2 separate regions of the Homo sapiens genome follow, and region 1 is linked to region 2. Evidence: fine-mapped expression QTL. A gene starts in region 2. The other region holds a variant in brackets. All regions are shown on one strand. Distances are from middle to middle.

Region 1 (10,115 bases), 40 kb before region 2:
AGGAGGCTGAAGCTGGGGGTCTGGGAGTTTGACGGGCCCTTCCTCCCACCTGCAGGGGCTGCAGGCGCAACCTCATTGAGGGATGAACAACCTTCTCTGGACGTGAAGCTGGGTGGGAGGGTGGGGGACGAGAAGAGGCTGCAGAGGAGGCGGGGGCTCTGAATCCACCCAGCCAGGCCAGCCCTGTCTCTGTGACTACAAAGAATGTTCTGGAAGGGTTAGGGTGCTGTTTGCCTCAGGGGAGAGGGCGTGGTGGGAGGGCTGCTGGGCTGGCAGAGTACCAGGGGAATTCCCAGGAACTCCTCTGGCATCTCTGAGACCCAGCAGGGCAGAGGGTGGGCGGGGCTGCATGGCGCAGGGGCTCCCAGACCTGAGCTGTGGAGGTGGGGCCCTGTCTGCCCCCTCACTTTGGAAACCTAGTAGGGTTTGTTTGCTTGTTTTTTGTTGTTGTTGTTGTTGTTGTTGTGTGTGTGTGTGTTTTTTTTTAAAGAAATTTGCTGTTTTCCAGGTAGCTTCATAGAAAGCCAGGGTCTCTTTCCTCTATAGTTAGGTTGTTTACATTGCAAAAGCCTAATCCTCTTGCTAGGTTGATATTGTGTCTCGTGGGCTCCTTAATGAAAAGCATTTGTCCAGGATTATTCCTTCACAGCAAATGAGAGCCTCCAAGACAGCTCCACTCTGAGAACCGGCCTTGTGGCTGGGGCACGAGCACCAGGGGCCCCAAAGAGGGGGTCAGGCTCGAGCCACTTGTGTACGTGTGCTACTCCTGGCCTGAGCACCCCAGGCTGGCTCTGAAATCTAGGGTGAGCAGAAAGGGAGGCAGATTCTCACTGTAAGAAGCACGGGGGAGAGACCCCATTCGAGTGGGCTGTTTCCCTTTTGGTTTTGAGCCTGTAGTTTCCCCCAAAGGATGTCCACATCCTAATCCCTGGAATCTCTGGACATGTCACCTGACATAGAAAAAGGGACTTTGCTGTTGTGATTAAGGACTCTGGGATGAGGAGATGATCCTGGATAATGTAATCACAGGAGTCCTTGAGGAGGAAGGCAGGAAGGTCAGAGGAGGAAGCAAGAGGCCAGAGTGATCCCAGGAAGGGGTCGAAAGCTGCGTTATGCAGGCAGCTCCAGAAACTGCAAAAGGCTGGAAACAGACTCTCCTGGGAGCCTTTGGAAGGAGTGCAGCCAGCCCTGATTTCAGCCCTGAAAGACTCATTGCAGACTTCCGGCCTCCAGAGCTGTAGGAAAATGAAGTTGGTTGCTTTTTTGTTTTTGCTTCTAGAGGCAGGGTCTCGCTCTGTGGCCCAGGCTGAAGTGCAACAATGGTGGCAATAGTGCAATGACGGCTCATGGCAACCTCAACCTCCTGGGCTCAAGTTATCCTCCCTCCTCAGCCTCCCGAGTAGCTGGGACCACAGGTGTGCACCTCCAAGCCTGGCTAATTTTTCTTTTTTTATTTTTTGTAGAGACGGGGTCTTGCTGTGTTGTCCAGGCTGGACTTGAACTCCTGAGCTCAAATGATCCTCCTTCCTCAGCCTCCCCAAGTGCTGGGATTACAGGCGTGAGCCACTGTACCAGGTCAAGTTGTGTTGTTTTAAGCCATCCAGTTGGTGGTTATTTGTTACAGCAGCCACAGGAGACCCACGCGGCCAGAGTCCCTCTCCTGCCCTGCCCCCGATGCCAGTCAGCCACTAGGCTGGGAGGGTCCTGCCCTGGGAGAGTCCGGCATGAACACAGGGACCAGGTGCAGCAACTGGACTCCAGACAGGAAGCACTCTGTCCTGAGAGCTGCCCACACCCAGATTAGGGTTTGGATCCCCCAAGAAACCCCCATCCAATCTCTTCCCCGCCTCCTTTGGCCCCCAGCAGACCTGCTTCTCACTCACGTTCCCTTTCTGCCCCTGCTTCAGCTTTTTCCTAGACCGCCTGCCTCCAGCAGAACGAATCAAGAAGATTACAGGGCAGGCGGGTGTGAGAGCAGCTCCTGGGGCGAAACTAGACGAAAATCCCCTGGCCCTGTTTCCCCAAACTTCCCTTTGATTTTTAATTTTTTTCAAAAGTTTCTTCATCACAAAATTTCCGGATGTGACATCCCTGGCAGCTCACACAGCAAGTTTTGGCAAAAACCAATGTCTTACTTCTCGCTGGGCTGCAAGAAATTAGAGTAATCGCCCCCAACACACAAAGGCATGAACTCCCGATGCAATTAAGGAGAGGTGAGGGGATCAAAGGAATCATGGCTGTGGATGAACTCTCCTTCTCTCGTTTTCCCTTAAAAGTCACGAGAGGCAACTTGCAGTCTAGTTAGCTTGGGGGCACCCGGGGTTGGGGTGTAGCAATGTGGGCAGGAGATGGTATCCTTGGCCTCAGCAGATGGGGCCCCTAAGGTTGTACTTTTTGGCGTGGCTCTGCCAGAGATTATATGAGCTCCAAGTTCTGGAGCTCCCTTCCAGCCCCGCTTTTCACTTTGGCGCAAGAGGGCAGTTAGGGCAAGTTCCTAGTTGTCCCCAAGGCTCCTCTGCCCCTCAACTGTGACGTGGGATGGTGATACCACCTAGCTTGCAGGGCTGGGTGCAGGTTTAAGGAGGCACGATTGAAACCTGGTGCCTGGCACAGAGAAAGCTCAAAAATGCAGGGTGCCACCCTTCATGTCATCCTCACCTCCACCCCATCGGCACCGCCTCCCACGCAGCCCTCCTCAGTGACGACGGCGGGTTTGGCTTCATCCCCTTCCATGAAGATGAGCGCGGCTCCCTCTCCTTTGTGTTGGATCTGGGGCCCTGGGGAGAGCTGGGCACACGGCTGGTGTGTAGTAGCGGCTCACTGCTGGGACACTGCTGTCTGCTGAGGGTTGCTCACTTGGCTGTGGTTGCTGCTCTCAGGCCTCTCATGGAGCCACCGTGACACACCCCCCGTGACACACACACCCCGTGACACACACCCCCCGTGACACATCCCCCGTGACACACACCCCGTGACACACACCCCGTGACACACCCCCCGTGACACACACCCTGTGACACACACCCCGTGACACACCCCCCGTGACACACCCCTCCAAGCCAGGGTGCAAGTTACATCCCATCGCCAGGCCCAGCACCATCCACACAGCAGCCCCACACGTGGGGAGCGTCGCTGTGGTTATGGCCGACTTGCCGTGTAGGCTAAGATTGTTCCCCTTACACACACAGACATCCTCTCTCTCACACCCTCACGCAATCCCACACTCGTATTCACTCCCACATTTACACACGTACACGCTCACAGGCATGCATACAGTGGGGCATTCATTTACACACACACCCATGCACACACACACATCCTCACACACACCCACATGCATCTTCACACACTGTGAAACACACACCCACACCCACACACTCTACGGGGGTCACACAGGCCTCTCCAGCTGCGCCCTCCCTGCACCGTGCAGACCCCCAGGTCTGGCCTCAGAGGGGACACGCAAGCCCCACTGGCAGCAGACCTCCGGTGTCCCGTCCCCTGTCTGGGCTGGCGAAAGTGCAGGTAGCTCCTTGGTCGCCTGACCCAGTGCCTTGGATGCTGCCCGTGTGCTGGGCCGGAGGACACCATTCCCTCGCGCACAACAAGCCCTGTGAGGCATCACGGAGGGGACGGGAGCTCACACCTCAACCTAGAGACCCCGTCTACTCACAACCACTTTTAAGGAATGCAGCTAAACAGGGGGCTCAGATCCCTGTTCAGGGCCCTTCTCACGATCCCACCGTAACAGCCCAGCCCTGCGGGTGCCTGGCTGCAGTCTCCTTCTCCCCAGCACTTCCAGACCTGGCAGCCCGGCCCAATACCAGCGGCCGTGGGGCCTGACCTGGACTGAACCCCGGAGCCCGGACAGGCTGGTCACTGCAGGGCGGGGCCTGAATTCTGCAGCTGCTCCTGAGGCCAAAAGCTGTTCTGAGGGTGGGGTGGGCTGCCAGGCTCCACCGACGCCCTCCCGCACTGCAGGCGCCTCTCTGGAGCCTCACATATGTCCACCATCAGATTCCATGGTCTGCGGTCTGTGGAGACGGTGGGGACCGACTCTCTCAACACCTCTGTGTGAACTGGATCCCCTGGGGGACTGGGGGGAGTAACAGAAAAGCTCACAGAGTGCCCCTGAGCCCAGAGCTGTTTCTGATCTCTCCTTAAAAGCGATCTCCGTGGAAACAGCCCAGATGACCATCAGTGGACGAATAGATACACAACTGTGGTCCATCCACACAACAGAATATCATCCAGTCACAGAAAGGGAGGAAGCGCTGATCCATGCTACAACATGGGTGAACCCCAAAAACATGATAAGAGACGCCGGATACAAAAGGCCACGTAGCATGTGATTTTACCTCCACGGAATGCCCAGAAGAGGCAAAATCTGCAGAGACAGAAAGCAGAGGAGCCAGGGGGAGGAGCTGAGTGTTCGGGAGAGGGGAGTGAGCAGTGACCGATCACAGGTTCAGGCTTTCCTTTGGGGCGATGACAATGTTAGGAAGTCGAGAGAGGTGTTTACACAACCTTGTGAAGATATTAAGTGCCACTGAACTGTGTGCTTTAAAGTCGTTCATTTTATGTTACATGCATTTCAACTCAATTTTTTTAAGTGACCTCTGATTTTTAAAAGACGAGTCAATATTCCCAGT[G/T]ACTCATTTGACCATGGGAAAATCCACTCTTTTATGGGCCAAATGTTTGCAAGGCTAGAGTTCTGTCTGAAATGGAAACTTCATCAACAGCTGGGCATTCGGTGGCCAGGCTTTTACTTGGAAAATTGGACCAGATTTCTTGGCCATCATCTTAATTATGTGTTCGACACAGAGGGACAGAAATTTCTAAATCACAACTTCCTCTGAGTGGAGAAAATCAAGCCCCAAATTCTTAAAGGGATATAGGAAAGCAAGTCTCCCGGCCATGCTTTTTGAGAGGGATGTTGGTGAAGGGCGTTTAGTCCTCCCCATCATAGAAGAGGAGAATCTGGCCACCCAAAATGTGGGAACTGGGTTCTGTGGACTGGGAAGGTTCAAAAAGAGTATCAAAAACGGGGGAGGTTCGCCTTTCCCAACTGCAGCCAGATGGCACACAAGGCTCTCCTGCATGTGCTTCCAGAATGTCTCCAGGCAGACAGAATGTGTCCAAATGCTAGGAGGAAAACAGAGTACAACAGCGTCAATGACCACAGCAGTAATGGAAACCATGCTAATAATCATAATACCCTCTACCAAGCCCAACCCCATGTGTCATCCTACACAGTAGCTAGGACGACATTAGTACCCCATTTCATTCTCCCGTGTCTCAGTCTCTGTATCTGAACAACAGGACAAATAACAGTGTCTACTTCATTATGCTGTCATCATTATTGAATGAAGGTTCAACTCTCCATATTCCATTTTTTAACAAAAGCTTCAACTCACATTTATTGGCAAATGTTGATGTCATCCAGGTCCAGTTCCATGCTGCCAACAGAAGATCCATTCCTTATCTTCCAGCGATGCGCTGTACTTCTGAACAGCTTCGCCTGCATTTGGTAAGCAAGAGTCGTCAGTAGCCTGGAGTCAATGAGAAGTTTACAAAGTTGTTGAGAGGTCAGGCTTTTGTGAATGAATTATAAGAGGATAATACAAAACAAAAATAATAATAAAATGCCCTAGGGAAAAATAATTTATCCCATGCCAACTAGGTCTTGAGAAGGTCATTTCTAAATTACTGTCTCAAACTGAATTATAAACAACTACTGAAGGCAGAGAAAGGGGGGTGGGGAAGCAAGTGTGGACGGGGCGCAGAAGGCTTCAGGAAAGACAAAACCAGGGGGAGGGAGTCAGACTCTGGAAGAGGAGGCTGTAAATCTGTGGGTCTCAGCCTGTTCAGGTTGCTGTAACCAGCTACCATAGACCAGGTGGTTTACAAGCAAGAGAAACTTATTTCACACAGTTCTGAGGCTGGACATCCAAGATAAAGGCAGATTGGTGTCTGCCAAGGGTCCTTCCCACATAGACGCAGGCACCTTGCTGTGTGTTACACGGTGGGAGGGACAAAGGGGCTCCCTTGGGCCTCTTTTCTAAGGGCACTGACCCCATCCACGAGGCTCCACCTTCATGACTGATCACCTCCCAGAGGCTCCACCTCCTAGAACCATTAGCTTGGAGGCGAGAATTTCAACATAGGAATTTTGTGAGGGACACAAACATTTGGACCATGGCATTCTGCCCTCTGCAGAGCTGGCTGAGGTTATAAACTGCCCACTGTGCAGAAAGGACCCGAAGCAGAAAGCATGCCCAGTCTCAGCCAGGATGGAATAGTTACTGCAGCATGGACAAGGAAGGCATGTCAGAAAAAAAAAAAAAAGCCATTGCCATCACCATCGTTATTATCACCATCATCGCTAGCGTTTCCTGAGTGCTTGCTGGTTCCAGAGATGGTGCAAAGTGCCTTGCACGCATCATGTCACTTAATCCTCCCAACAGCCCGGGGACGTGTGTTCCACGGTTACCCCATCTGCTGGATGAGGAAACTGAGGCTCAGGGAGGTTAACAATTTGCCCAACGTCCAACAGCAGCTGGAGAGCCATGGCAAGGCTGAACGGTGAATGCCTGTGCAAGGGAAGCCAGGCTGTCTCCAGGGCTCCCGACAGGGGCTGCGTTTCTGCTGGGAATAATTGCCGGATTCCATTTGCACTAGGATGTGCGAACTCACTGTTGTTCACTAATTCTAAGACACCTTCTTCGTATTTAACACCCTCTAAAGCTGGGGTGCTGTGTCATGGTTTAGTCTTAGATGGCAACAATAATGGAATCAATGGTATCTTAGACTTAATGAAAAGTTGGGTTGCCAGGCCCAAGTTCCTAGAACTGTTAAGTTTTTGTTTTATGGCAGGCATTTATTTTCTTCTTGTGGCCACTAGAGTTTTTTTTAAAAAAAAAAAAAAAAAAAAAGAAGAAGAAGAAGAAGAAGAAACTTCTAGAGCAGGAATGTCCAAAATTTTGGCTTCCCTGGGCCACACTGAGTGTCTTGGGCCACACATAAAATACACAAACACTAACGATAGCTGATGAGCTAAAAAAAAAAAAAAAAAAATCACAAAAATTTCTCATAATGTTTTCAGAAAGTTTACAAATTTGTGTTGGGCTGCATTCAAAGCTGTCCTGGGCCACATGCAGGCCATGGGCCACAGGTTGGACAAGCTTGTTCTAGATAAAGAAAAAAAATGTGTGTGTGTGTGTGTGTGTGTGTGTATACATATATATGGGCTATTAATAAACCACCCAGTTTATGGTGCATTGTTATATAAATAACCTAATGTTCAGATTTCAGATTTTCTATTGCTCTTTAACAAATACAAAATTTAGCAGCTTAAAAACATGGTTTTCTTGCAATTCCATGGGTCTGGAATTCAGCAGGGCTGGGCTGGGTGACTCTTCTTTTCTCCTTGGCCTGGACAGGGCCCATGTGGAGGTATCTGGTTCTGAGAAGAGGCTGTTCCGGAGGGTCCATGTGACTTCACTCACACCCTGGCAGGGAGGGCTGGAAGGCTGGGCTCAGCTAGGACTATGGGCTATCCACATGGCCTCGCCAGCATGCTGGCCTCAGGTAGAAGTATTTCTTCTGTGGTGGCTGAAAGCTCTGGAAGCACGTGTTCCAGGAGACCAGGCAGAGCCGCAGGGCCTATATGGTATAGCCTTGGAGGACATGCATCCTCACCTCCTGACCCTGTGTGGGAGAGGACAGCCTGGATGGTGTAGCCTTGGAGGACATTCATCCTCACCTCCTGACTCTGTGTGGGAGAGAAGGATCTGGATGGTGTAGCCTTGGAGGGCGTGCATCCTCACCTCTTGACTCCATGTGGGAGAGGATGGCCTGGATAGTGTAAACTTGGAAGGTGTGCATTCTTACCTCCTGACTCCATGTGGGAGAGGACGGCCAGGGGGGTGTAGTCATGGAAGGCATGCATCCTTACCTCCTGGAGACGTGCCAATGCCTAGCCTGGAAAGGGTCCCACCTGCCTCCTGACCCCGTTTGGGAGAGGATGGCCTAGAGTGTGTAGTCTTGGAAAGCATGCATCCTCACCTCCTGATTCCGTGTGGGAGAGAACGACCTGGATGGTGTAAACTTGGAAGGTGTGCATTCTTATCTCCTGACTCCGTGTGGGAGAGGACTTCACCAGGGCGCAGGTGCCAGAGGCTCCCACACCAAGGATGAAGATGGTCACCTTCACAACCCGTTCCGACTCACCCAGTGGCTACTGTTGGACACCTACTCTCTGTCAAGCATTTTCCTTGGCAACAAGTAAAAAAGACACTCAAATGATGTCCTCAAGGCCGTTACGCTGCAGTGACATAAGAGGCAAGTGACCTAAGAAAAACAGGATCCTTGGAAATAGTGATAATCACTCTAAAGAATGAAACAGGGGCTGGGGCCTGTGACTCATGCCTCTAATCCCAGCGCCTTGGAAGGCAGGTGGATCGCTTCAGCTCAAGAGTTGGAAACCAGGCCAGGCGCAGTGGCTCACATCTTTAATACCAGCACTTTGGGAGGCCGAGGCAGGTGGATCAGGAGGTCAGGAGTTCAAGACCAGCCTGGCCAACATGGTGAAATCCTGTCTCTACTAAAAATACAAAAAATAGCCAGGTGTTGTGGTGTGCGCCTGTAGGCCCAGCTACTCAGGAGGCTGAGGCAGGAGAATTGCTTGAACCCGGGAGGCAGAGGTTTCAGTGAGCCAAGATTGTGCCACTGCACTCCAGCTTGGACGACAGAGCGAGACTGTCTCAAAAAAAAAAAAAAAAAAAAAAAAGGAGTTGGAAACCAGCCTGACAGACATGGCGAAACCCGTCTCTTTAAAAAGTACAAAAAAATTGGACGTGCTGGCGCGTGCCTGTGGTTCCAGCTACTTGGGGGGCTGAGGCAGGAAAATCGCTTGAACCTGGGAGGTCAAGGCTGCAGTGAGCCAAGATGGCACCATTGCACTCCAGCCTGGGGGACAAAGTGAGACCCTGTCTCAAAAAGAAAAAGAATGAAATAAATAGGAAAACATAGTGGAGCCTGGAATGTTAGAAAGAATGATCACGGAGGCGTCCTGAGGAGGTGACCTGTGACAAGCAATCTGAATGATGGCGGGGAATGGCTGTGGGACTCCCTGGGAAAGTGCATTTGGGGATGGGGAAGAGCACGTGCCAAGGCTGCAGGGTGGAGGAGAGTGGGCTGGAGTCCTCCAGGAACAGAGGATGGGTCTGTGAGGGCCCGGAGTCACGGGGGCTGGGAAAGGGACCAGGAGGAGATCCTCAGGAGGTGAGAAGCCAGACCAGGGGTTCTCAGGGGCCATGGCACAGGGTGTGGATTTTATGCCAGATGCATTGGGACCCATCCTAGCGCCTGCCTGGAGGTGGAGTCACTGAGCAGCTGGGTCATGTGTGGCTGGTGACCAGCAGGGCCTATCTGGAGGAAGGGCGGTGTGGCGAGCCCAGCCTGCCCTTAGCACACACACACGCACACAGGGGTGAGGCTGGGCTGCACCCACCCGCCTCCGGGCCATCCCCTGCACCTCGGATGACTCCTCCTGGGCGTGTCATTCCTGCCCACGCTTGGCTCACGGACCTCACAGCCACTTGGGGCCTGTGCTTCCCAGCAACAGGAAGCCTCACGCAGTTTAGAAGGGGACCTGGGCCTCTGCCGCAGTCAGGGCAGGGAAGGGCAGGGGTGGGGGTGGCCAAGCGAAGCTGGCTGGGAGAAAGCATCACCTGGAGACGCTCCAACGCCCAGCTTGGAAAGGGTCCCACCCGCCTCTGCATTCGTTTGGATGTGTCTTTCGTAAAAATCAAAGAAAGAAAGAGATGCTTGTTTCAGCTGACGACAGGGAGCTCCAGGGTTGCCCATAAGTTCAGGAGACGCCGTTCTGTCACCCTTGATATTCCCAAAATATCAAACCTTCACTGGTGCAGCCTGCTGCACTGGGTGTTTCATCAAGCTTTCTTGATTTTTAAAAACTTTTTTACAACCCCTTTAGCCCTCAACAAATATGAAGTCCACATCAAGTGCATAATAAATGTCTGCTAATTGAGTGACAGTGGTAGGCAGAATAATGGCACCCCCAACCAAAATGTCCACATCCAAGCCCCTGGGCC
Region 2 (10,115 bases):
TGGCATATCTGAGGTCATGGGGCTAGAAAGTGGAAGAGGGGGATTCAGACCCAGGCATCCGGGTCGTTTCCTCCCCAGATCATCACTGTGGTGCGGGGCTGCTCAGGCGTTTGGTGAGTGGCTGCAGATTCAGAGCTCACCTAAGGTGAAAAGCAGGAACGGGGTTCCTTCTCATTTCTTTGTAAGGCAGAGCCAAGCTCGTGGGTGTCCCCACTCTGTCCCTGAAGGGATAGTTTCTCTGTGTCATCTTTGCCTCCTCTGTCACCCATGCAGGGGCCGCAGGCCTGTGATGAGCTGACCCACTCAGCTCCCAGAACAGGCAAAAGGGTCCCAGGGTGCAGGAGGGAAGCCGAAAGAAAACAGATGGGAAGGGGAGTAATTAAATCAGCACATCCCAAACAGCTAAGGGAGGGGACAAGGAGCAAAGCAATGAAGACCAGGTATGAAGTCTGAACTCACAGAATGGGCACGCGCTTCCGATAAGCTGTCCGCTCAAGCTGTTTGGAATACAAACACCAACCAAAACAACACACGCACACACTCTTTTGTGTCGTGTTTCTGGAATTCTGTGATGTTTCTTTTCTCATATATTCCTCCAAAAACAGTCCAGTACAGAATTGCAGGTTGAAGCACTGTGAATAGGCTCTAGGTTTGCCCCAGGTTAAGGGTTAATTTGTTGAGTTTCAGAACAGGTAGGCGACGCCCTCCTGGATTTTAAACAGATAACGTCCTTGCCATGTAAGAGCACTTAGAAGGCTGGCTTTATCTCTTTAAAAAAAAAATATATATATATATATACACACACACACACACACATATATACACACACACATATATATACACACACATATATACACACACACATACACACACACATATATACACACACATATACACACACATATATACACACACATATATACACACATATATACACACATATATACACACACATATATATACACACACATATACACACACATACACACACATATATACACACACATATATACACACACATATATACACACACATATATATACACACACACACACATATATACACACACTATATATATATATATGATTGTGTTTGTTGTTGTTGCAGTTGCAGAGATGAAAAAGAAATCTGTGTCTTTAAATGAGGAGGGGCTGCGTAAGGAGGCTTGGGCAGCAAAAAGGCTAATACGCTGTGGAAGAGAAGGAGTTTAATCTAATTTAGTTGGAGGGTGTCTGTCTGCGGTGTTGTTTTTTGGAGTGTGGGAATAGAGGCGGGAAGCTGCCCCCTTGAATGGTCCCTCCTGAGCCAGGAGCAGTGGGGAGCCAGTCGACGCCAGCGATCCAAAGCCCGGCCTTGAAAGAGGATTAAATCAATGCTCTGATTTGCAATTCACACTAGTGCACCCCGTGGAACCTTTGGTAATATTTCAAACCACATTTCAAGGGAAGTGGCCTTAAAATAGCTGCCTAAATTGTGCTGGAGCCACACTGGACACCCCACTCATCCACTTTAGGATGGGGGTGCTTCGGGGTTCATTTCTCACCTTCCCCCAAACCTCCACATCTCACAGCCAGTGTTTTTAGGCAGAATTAAAACTTTTGCGCCTGTTGAATTCGCTGCGACTTGCATGGCCTTTCTGGTGGTACAAACTGTGTTTTCTTTGCTAAGTATCACTTCAGATCACTAAAGGTATTTTCCCTGGAGAAAAAGATGGGGGCACGCCACGGGGAGCATGCCTACTTGATCAGAAAACATAATTTTTTGTGCATGTTTTATATCTGATAAGTTTCTGCAGAAACTTGATACTAGATGAGGTCAGAGAAAACAAGGTCTATTCACATCAGACTTCCCTGCATGTGAAGCAATTATTGGTAAATAGATCAGTTTTCATTCTCATACTTGAAGGTAGAATTGGAAATGTCCCGGACTAAATACAAACATTGACGACACGAGAAGACAAGAGAAGAAACACAAGAATCACTTACGTGGATCCTCACACTTGAATGTACCAAGAGAGGTGATTCAAGCAGCAGCTACTGAAAGGCGTTGCGACAGCCTGAACCACTTTTTATCTCAACATTCACCAGCACGATTTTACTTCTGTTTATGAGCTTTCTTCCTATGCCACCAGTTTACTCTTGCAATTAGCTTGTAACATGCTAAGCTTATGGTTTAATTTCTTTCTGTTGCTGAAAGACTCAGTACTTTTTTATCTTAAAGAGATTATTTGGGTTTTCTCTAATCCCATTTCAGAAAACCTCGCACAGTGCTTATAATTTCCATTGACTATTACATAATAAGAAAAGATACAACTTTGATTTTTAGCAATATCCGTGTCAAAGTACTTTTATACTTTTGACTTTGTGAGTTTAAATGGAATGAAACTGGGCCTCTCTTTCAATTCCCCTCCACCTCCAAAAAATATTTAGTTCTTGTTCAAAACACTGCCTGACTCCTGAAATATTCTCTCTCAAAAACCTCATACTTTCCCTGGTGAACGTTTGCAAGAACCTGAAGGCGGATAATGTTTACTGATAGCTTTCCGATAGACAGACATTTTTAGGTGGTTGGGGGTAAAAACATATTCCTTGTCTCTGCACGTTATGTGAAATCATGTTTAATTATAAAGTTTCATTAAAAATCTTTGCTCAAAATTTTAGAAGCCTAATAAGATTTCCATTAATTTAAACATATCACTATTCCCACGACGGCTCCAAAGCTTTCTTTTCCGTCTTTCATCCATGGTTAAATATGTAAATAAAATGTCTAAAGTCATTCTTCAAAGAAGACAAAAGAAAAAAGAGCTGAGGGAAAGACAGCCATAAAATTCCTCCCAATTCTCCATAACATTTGCCAGAGGGGGGTCGGTTGCCAGCCAGGGCTGAGCAGCGGGGGACCCCGGCTGCTCCTTAGACTCACACATCTCAAATCCCACACACAGGAAAAAAAATAAAATAAAATATCTTTTCAGCTGGGGCCATCAAAAGAGCCTTTTCATTTATTAGTTACAGACTTATCTTCCAGTTGCTGATTTCTCAGAACCCTCATTTCTCTATAATAAAGTCTATTTGTTGGTTTCCATCTCAGCTGGACAGGGCGAAGCACTTCTGCAGACATTTTTATAAAAAACGAGAGAAAAAGGCAATCTGAAGTGGTTATAGCTAAAATAATGGGCCTGAACGTGGCTGAATTAAAACAGCACAGAAAAGATCAATTAGGAGGCACTTTCTCAAATAGCTCACACCCAGCTCCCGGCGTTTGGCTCTCACTCTTGCACTAAATATTTCTAATAGTTGCTGAGGGAGAGACACAAAAAGGAAAAGAAGGAAAATAGGGCCCAGGAAGGACCTTTGCCAGGAAAATTCTAGAAAAGCCAAGTGATTTCCGCTGAATTAATTTTAATTTAAAGGTCCTGAAAAATTACTCACTAGACAAAAAACAACAACAACAAAAAAAAAAACACTATAATAAAAATGGCAGTCTTTCAAAAATAAAATCATGCAACTTTTCACTTGGGAAATAACACAGTTGAAGGTGGTGTTCTAACTGCCCGGAGTTTCTACCTTCTTTTTCACTTTCTCCCTCACCCCGACTTCCTCCAGCACCTCCTAGTGAGACCCAGGACACCCAGGGACAGCGACCCAGGGGTGGGTGCCTGAACCTGCCTATTAATTCTGGGATTCTGGGCGCTCAAATGTCTGTTGAACGGATGAATGAATGAGTGGAAAGGTGAGATTTCCCCAAGTTTCTTACCGATGTAAAAATTGTAGGGCTTGTTTTAATTAAAAGCCAATACTCTCCGAGGAAGTGGCCCCCTCCTGCACGGCGTGCAGAAAGCTGGTCAGTGAGGGGGGTTCCTGGCGGGCCCCATCTCCTTCCCGGGCGCTTCCTAGGGAGACCTTGCCCCGTGCGCAGCGTCCCCACCGCGGGGGCCCGTGCAGCCGCCCCCCACGCCGGGTGGAGCGCCGCCAACGCGGGAAGCCCCAGCACTGCCTCCAAAGATGTCCGCACACTCCACCCTGCTCCCTGGAACTATCCTCAAACGGGCAGGGGGCAAGCGAGGCCGGTGGACGCGGGACTCGCTCCTCTGACCTCTCCCCGGCCCCCCGGGAGGTAGCGGGAGATTGCACACGCGATCCTGCGAGTTTCCGAACTTTGGAAGATCGTGACCCGGAGAGACCCTGGGAGGAGAGGGCCGGCCACCTCCTAGGGGTGCTGTTTTTTTAAGGGTCAACCCAGGACGCTACGGGAAGCACCTGGCGCATCCTTGGGAACAGTGGGGCTTGGCGGTGGGCGCCCACCGCGAACGCCCTGGGCGGGGGAAGGGAATGGCGGGGGGACGTCGTGTCCTAAGTGACCCCGTCACAGACCCGCCCCAATCCGAGGGGGGATGAGCTCAGAGGACCTGCCCAGGACGCTCCTTCTCCACTTTCCAGGAAAACCGAGCGGCGTGCGCGCCTCCGTGTCCTCGCGGGAGCTGGGGGTCCCCGGGCAGGCGCTGACGCGCTCCTCCCACGACCCACTCCATCCCACCCTACTCCGGGTCCTCCTGCGGGGCTGCAGCCAAGGAGGGCGCTGGCCGGGCACATCACTCGCCAAATCACATAAATACCCCACGAGCGAATGACTTCCTATAATAAATAAACTCAGCCGCCAAGAAGGCATCTCCAGCCCTGCTGGCGCGAGGCCCCGGCTCTGCGGCTTCGGAGGGGGCGGGGGTCACCGCGGTACAAACCAAGCCCGCACTTCCCGCGGGGTGGGAGGCGGTGTTCAAAGTCCCGGGACGCTTCCCGCCCCTCCCCCTTCCCGCCTTCTTAGAGGAGACCTCGGATGAGCGGCCCTAAAATCCGGATTCTCGAGCCCCTCCCCCTCCCCTTAGCTCGTCTCTTTGAAATTTCAAAGAAAATCCCTCCTCGGAGCCCGGAGCCCGGGGCTGGTAGCACCTCCCCAGCCTCAGGAAGATGCGGGCAGGTTTACAAGCAAGGGCCTACTTTATGGCCCAGGCTATAAAACGCAAATCCCACCTCCCTTTGAAAGCGCCCTCCGCCCGGGACTCACCATAAAAGGAAGAGAAGATGCACCCCGCGCCCCTCGCCGCGGACCACCCCCAAACCCCTTCTCCCGCCAGTCCCCGAACTTCCCGTAACCTCGGCGTCCTCGGGGTGCCGGGGACCATCCCGGGGACCGCCGGGAAAGGGGGCGCCGGCGGAGAGGATAGCGAGAGGCAAAGTTGGAGGCCAGGCAGAGAGAGGGCGAGGAGAGGCGGGCGGGACTGCCGGGGAGGGTCGCAGCGCGCAGAGCCCCGCGCGCCAGGCGGGCTGTCCCGGGGCTGGCGGGCGACGCGGGCGGGACTAGGCGCTGCGCCCCCCGCAGGCTGGGCTGCAGGCCGGGGGGGATCGGCCCCCGCGGGGCCCGGGAGCCCGCGGCGGGGCGGCGGGGAGGAGGCTGCCCCGGGCCGCTGCGCTTTCTCATGCAAAGCAGCGGCGGGGCGGGGCGCGCGGCCCGGGGGCGGGGCCTGTCAGCGCTCGGCTTTTCTGCCCCCCTTTGCCTTTTTGCGAGTCTTCTCATCCCGGGACGCAAACCTCGAAACAGCTGCCGGCTGGTCCCGGCCGAGGCCGGCGCAGGGAGGGAGGAGCCGCCCGGGCTGTGGGGGCGCCGCGAGCTGGGCCGGCCTCGGTGTGCCCGCGCCGCCAGCCCGCTCCAGACGCGCCACCTGGGCGCTCCAAGAAGAGGCCGAAGTTTGCCGCGGCCGTGAGTTGGAGCTCGCGCCGGGCCGCTGCGCCGGGAGCTCCGGGGGCTTCCCTCGCTTCCCGGTATTGTTTGCAAACTTTGCTGCTCTCCGCCGCGGCCCCCAACTCGGCGGACGCCGGGCGCGGAGAGCCGAGCCGGGGGCGCTGTGCGCAGCGCTCGGGCCAGGCCGGGCGGGCATGGGCGGGGGCCCGAGCAGGGGTGGAGAGCCGGGGCCAGCAGCAGCCCGTGCCCGGGAGCGGCGGCGCTGAGGGGCGCGGAGCTCCCCGCGAGGACACGTCCAACGCCAGCATGCAGCGCCCGGGCCCCCGCCTGTGGCTGGTCCTGCAGGTGATGGGCTCGTGCGCCGCCATCAGCTCCATGGACATGGAGCGCCCGGGCGACGGCAAATGCCAGCCCATCGAGATCCCGATGTGCAAGGACATCGGCTACAACATGACTCGTATGCCCAACCTGATGGGCCACGAGAACCAGCGCGAGGCAGCCATCCAGTTGCACGAGTTCGCGCCGCTGGTGGAGTACGGCTGCCACGGCCACCTCCGCTTCTTCCTGTGCTCGCTGTACGCGCCGATGTGCACCGAGCAGGTCTCTACCCCCATCCCCGCCTGCCGGGTCATGTGCGAGCAGGCCCGGCTCAAGTGCTCCCCGATTATGGAGCAGTTCAACTTCAAGTGGCCCGACTCCCTGGACTGCCGGAAACTCCCCAACAAGAACGACCCCAACTACCTGTGCATGGAGGCGCCCAACAACGGCTCGGACGAGCCCACCCGGGGCTCGGGCCTGTTCCCGCCGCTGTTCCGGCCGCAGCGGCCCCACAGCGCGCAGGAGCACCCGCTGAAGGACGGGGGCCCCGGGCGCGGCGGCTGCGACAACCCGGGCAAGTTCCACCACGTGGAGAAGAGCGCGTCGTGCGCGCCGCTCTGCACGCCCGGCGTGGACGTGTACTGGAGCCGCGAGGACAAGCGCTTCGCAGTGGTCTGGCTGGCCATCTGGGCGGTGCTGTGCTTCTTCTCCAGCGCCTTCACCGTGCTCACCTTCCTCATCGACCCGGCCCGCTTCCGCTACCCCGAGCGCCCCATCATCTTCCTCTCCATGTGCTACTGCGTCTACTCCGTGGGCTACCTCATCCGCCTCTTCGCCGGCGCCGAGAGCATCGCCTGCGACCGGGACAGCGGCCAGCTCTATGTCATCCAGGAGGGACTGGAGAGCACCGGCTGCACGCTGGTCTTCCTGGTCCTCTACTACTTCGGCATGGCCAGCTCGCTGTGGTGGGTGGTCCTCACGCTCACCTGGTTCCTGGCCGCCGGCAAGAAGTGGGGCCACGAGGCCATCGAAGCCAACAGCAGCTACTTCCACCTGGCAGCCTGGGCCATCCCGGCGGTGAAGACCATCCTGATCCTGGTCATGCGCAGGGTGGCGGGGGACGAGCTCACCGGGGTCTGCTACGTGGGCAGCATGGACGTCAACGCGCTCACCGGCTTCGTGCTCATTCCCCTGGCCTGCTACCTGGTCATCGGCACGTCCTTCATCCTCTCGGGCTTCGTGGCCCTGTTCCACATCCGGAGGGTGATGAAGACGGGCGGCGAGAACACGGACAAGCTGGAGAAGCTCATGGTGCGTATCGGGCTCTTCTCTGTGCTGTACACCGTGCCGGCCACCTGTGTGATCGCCTGCTACTTTTACGAACGCCTCAACATGGATTACTGGAAGATCCTGGCGGCGCAGCACAAGTGCAAAATGAACAACCAGACTAAAACGCTGGACTGCCTGATGGCCGCCTCCATCCCCGCCGTGGAGATCTTCATGGTGAAGATCTTTATGCTGCTGGTGGTGGGGATCACCAGCGGGATGTGGATTTGGACCTCCAAGACTCTGCAGTCCTGGCAGCAGGTGTGCAGCCGTAGGTTAAAGAAGAAGAGCCGGAGAAAACCGGCCAGCGTGATCACCAGCGGTGGGATTTACAAAAAAGCCCAGCATCCCCAGAAAACTCACCACGGGAAATATGAGATCCCTGCCCAGTCGCCCACCTGCGTGTGAACAGGGCTGGAGGGAAGGGCACAGGGGCGCCCGGAGCTAAGATGTGGTGCTTTTCTTGGTTGTGTTTTTCTTTCTTCTTCTTCTTTTTTTTTTTTTATAAAAGCAAAAGAGAAATACATAAAAAAGTGTTTACCCTGAAATTCAGGATGCTGTGATACACTGAAAGGAAAAATGTACTTAAAGGGTTTTGTTTTGTTTTGGTTTTCCAGCGAAGGGAAGCTCCTCCAGTGAAGTAGCCTCTTGTGTAACTAATTTGTGGTAAAGTAGTTGATTCAGCCCTCAGAAGAAAACTTTTGTTTAGAGCCCTCCCTAAATATACATCTGTGTATTTGAGTTGGCTTTGCTACCCATTTACAAATAAGAGGACAGATAACTGCTTTGCAAATTCAAGAGCCTCCCCTGGGTTAACAAATGAGCCATCCCCAGGGCCCACCCCCAGGAAGGCCACAGTGCTGGGCGGCATCCCTGCAGAGGAAAGACAGGACCCGGGGCCCGCCTCACACCCCAGTGGATTTGGAGTTGCTTAAAATAGACTCCGGCCTTCACCAATAGTCTCTCTGCAAGACAGAAACCTCCATCAAACCTCACATTTGTGAACTCAAACGATGTGCAATACATTTTTTTCTCTTTCCTTGAAAATAAAAAGAGAAACAAGTATTTTGCTATATATAAAGACAACAAAAGAAATCTCCTAACAAAAGAACTAAGAGGCCCAGCCCTCAGAAACCCTTCAGTGCTACATTTTGTGGCTTTTTAATGGAAACCAAGCCAATGTTATAGACGTTTGGACTGATTTGTGGAAAGGAGGGGGGAAGAGGGAGAAGGATCATTCAAAAGTTACCCAAAGGGCTTATTGACTCTTTCTATTGTTAAACAAATGATTTCCACAAACAGATCAGGAAGCACTAGGTTGGCAGAGACACTTTGTCTAGTGTATTCTCTTCACAGTGCCAGGAAAGAGTGGTTTCTGCGTGTGTATATTTGTAATATATGATATTTTTCATGCTCCACTATTTTATTAAAAATAAAATATGTTCTTTAGTTTGCTGCTAGTCCCTGGTTCATGGTGAGGTTTCCCTTCTCTGTGTGTGGAGAGACTACAGGACACTTTCTCCCTTTGCTTTTTAAGCAAATTCTGGGGTTGTGCTTCTAGCCAGAGAGTACTGGTTATCTGTATAAAATTGCAGATCAGAGGATTCCAAGATTGGAAGAATCATTCACTTGTGAGTTTCTGAGGAACTGCAGTCAGGCAATGTGTGAAGTTGGAAGTCGTTTCTGTGACTGTTGGTAGCTGGACATGAGGGCTTAGTTGTAGACACACATCACCAAGGAGAGCCTCACCACTAAGCGTGGACCCACTCATGAGCCTGGATTAGCCAGTTTTAATATATTCAGAGAGTAGAGCCAACCGATTAGGAGAATTAAATCATCTGTATTCAATTGACCTGCTAGGCTCAAATGGTACCTAGACAGAGCTGTATACATCAGCCCAAAGTGTGCTGGCTTTGCAGTGACTCTGAACTATGAAGACATTTACAAAACAGATTATAGACCTGGACGGGATAAAATACCTGCTAAGGGTGGCGAATCCTTAAGAGGAAGTTAAGCAGCTTTGGAACTTCATGGTACTTGGTTCTTCTCCAGGGTTTCCTGTTAGAACTGGGTAGCTGTAAAGAACTGCCCCAGGTCTGCTGGTCAAAGGCACAGCTACACTCAAGTTCCAGCCAGAAGGAAGCAAGGGCACAGTGCAGTCCTACTGTGGTGAGGACTCTATTAATATAAAGCAAGCCAAGCTGCCCCTGGGGCCATGCTTTTGTCCAGCTCCAAGTTAAACAAGGAGCTCTGGAAAACTTGGAGCATGGATGACACGCTTACCAACGAGGAGGAGAGCCTGGAGCTAGTGCAGTCTGTTTTCTGAAGAGGGTGTTCAGAACTTCAGCCTGGTAAACATAAGATCACCCATCAACACTAGGGCTGGAAACAGGCTTACATTGGCTTTGAGGGGCTACTGCACTTGGCCGTGAATATTTGCAGGGCACAGGAGCAGGCAGATCGGTGGTTTGGGATCAAGTTTGACAAACGGAGGAAACACCAGCTAGGTAGGCAAAGTAAAAGAATGCAAGATCCCAAAGAGCTTTCAGTGCATTAAAAAAGAAGGCAGAAAAGCTTCAGAAATGCCCCCAAATAAAATTTCTTTGTTGATTGTTTTCGCCTAGTCCCCCAAAAGACTACATAGAAATATTGATGTCTCTGTGCATGTATGGGTATAGCGTTTCCTTTTTGTCACTCTTAGGGAAAATGAAAATAACATATTTGGAATAGAACTTTCA

What was found.
Region 1: its variant is fine-mapped to the expression of FZD10-AS1 in tibial artery (GTEx, PIP above 0.99). The same link has a PIP of 0.9 or more in atrial appendage and subcutaneous fat.

Annotation. Positions count from the first base shown.
Region 1 is chr12:130,116,706-130,126,820 of GRCh38, forward strand. No RefSeq gene overlaps it. Among named protein-coding and RNA genes, the nearest start is that of FZD10-AS1, 40 kb to the right of the region's middle. The variant G/T (reference allele first, on the strand shown) is at 4,650.
Region 2 is chr12:130,156,904-130,167,018 of GRCh38, forward strand. FZD10-AS1 (FZD10 antisense RNA 1) reads right to left here and starts at 4,775. Exons shown (of 4, transcript NR_033834.1): 1 at 3,754-4,775. FZD10 (frizzled class receptor 10) reads left to right here and starts at 5,561. Exons shown (of 1, transcript NM_007197.4): 1 at 5,561-8,837. The coding sequence starts at 6,040. The coding sequence ends at 7,785. RefSeq lists enhancers at 4,041-4,607, 4,608-5,174, 6,761-7,756, 7,842-8,387.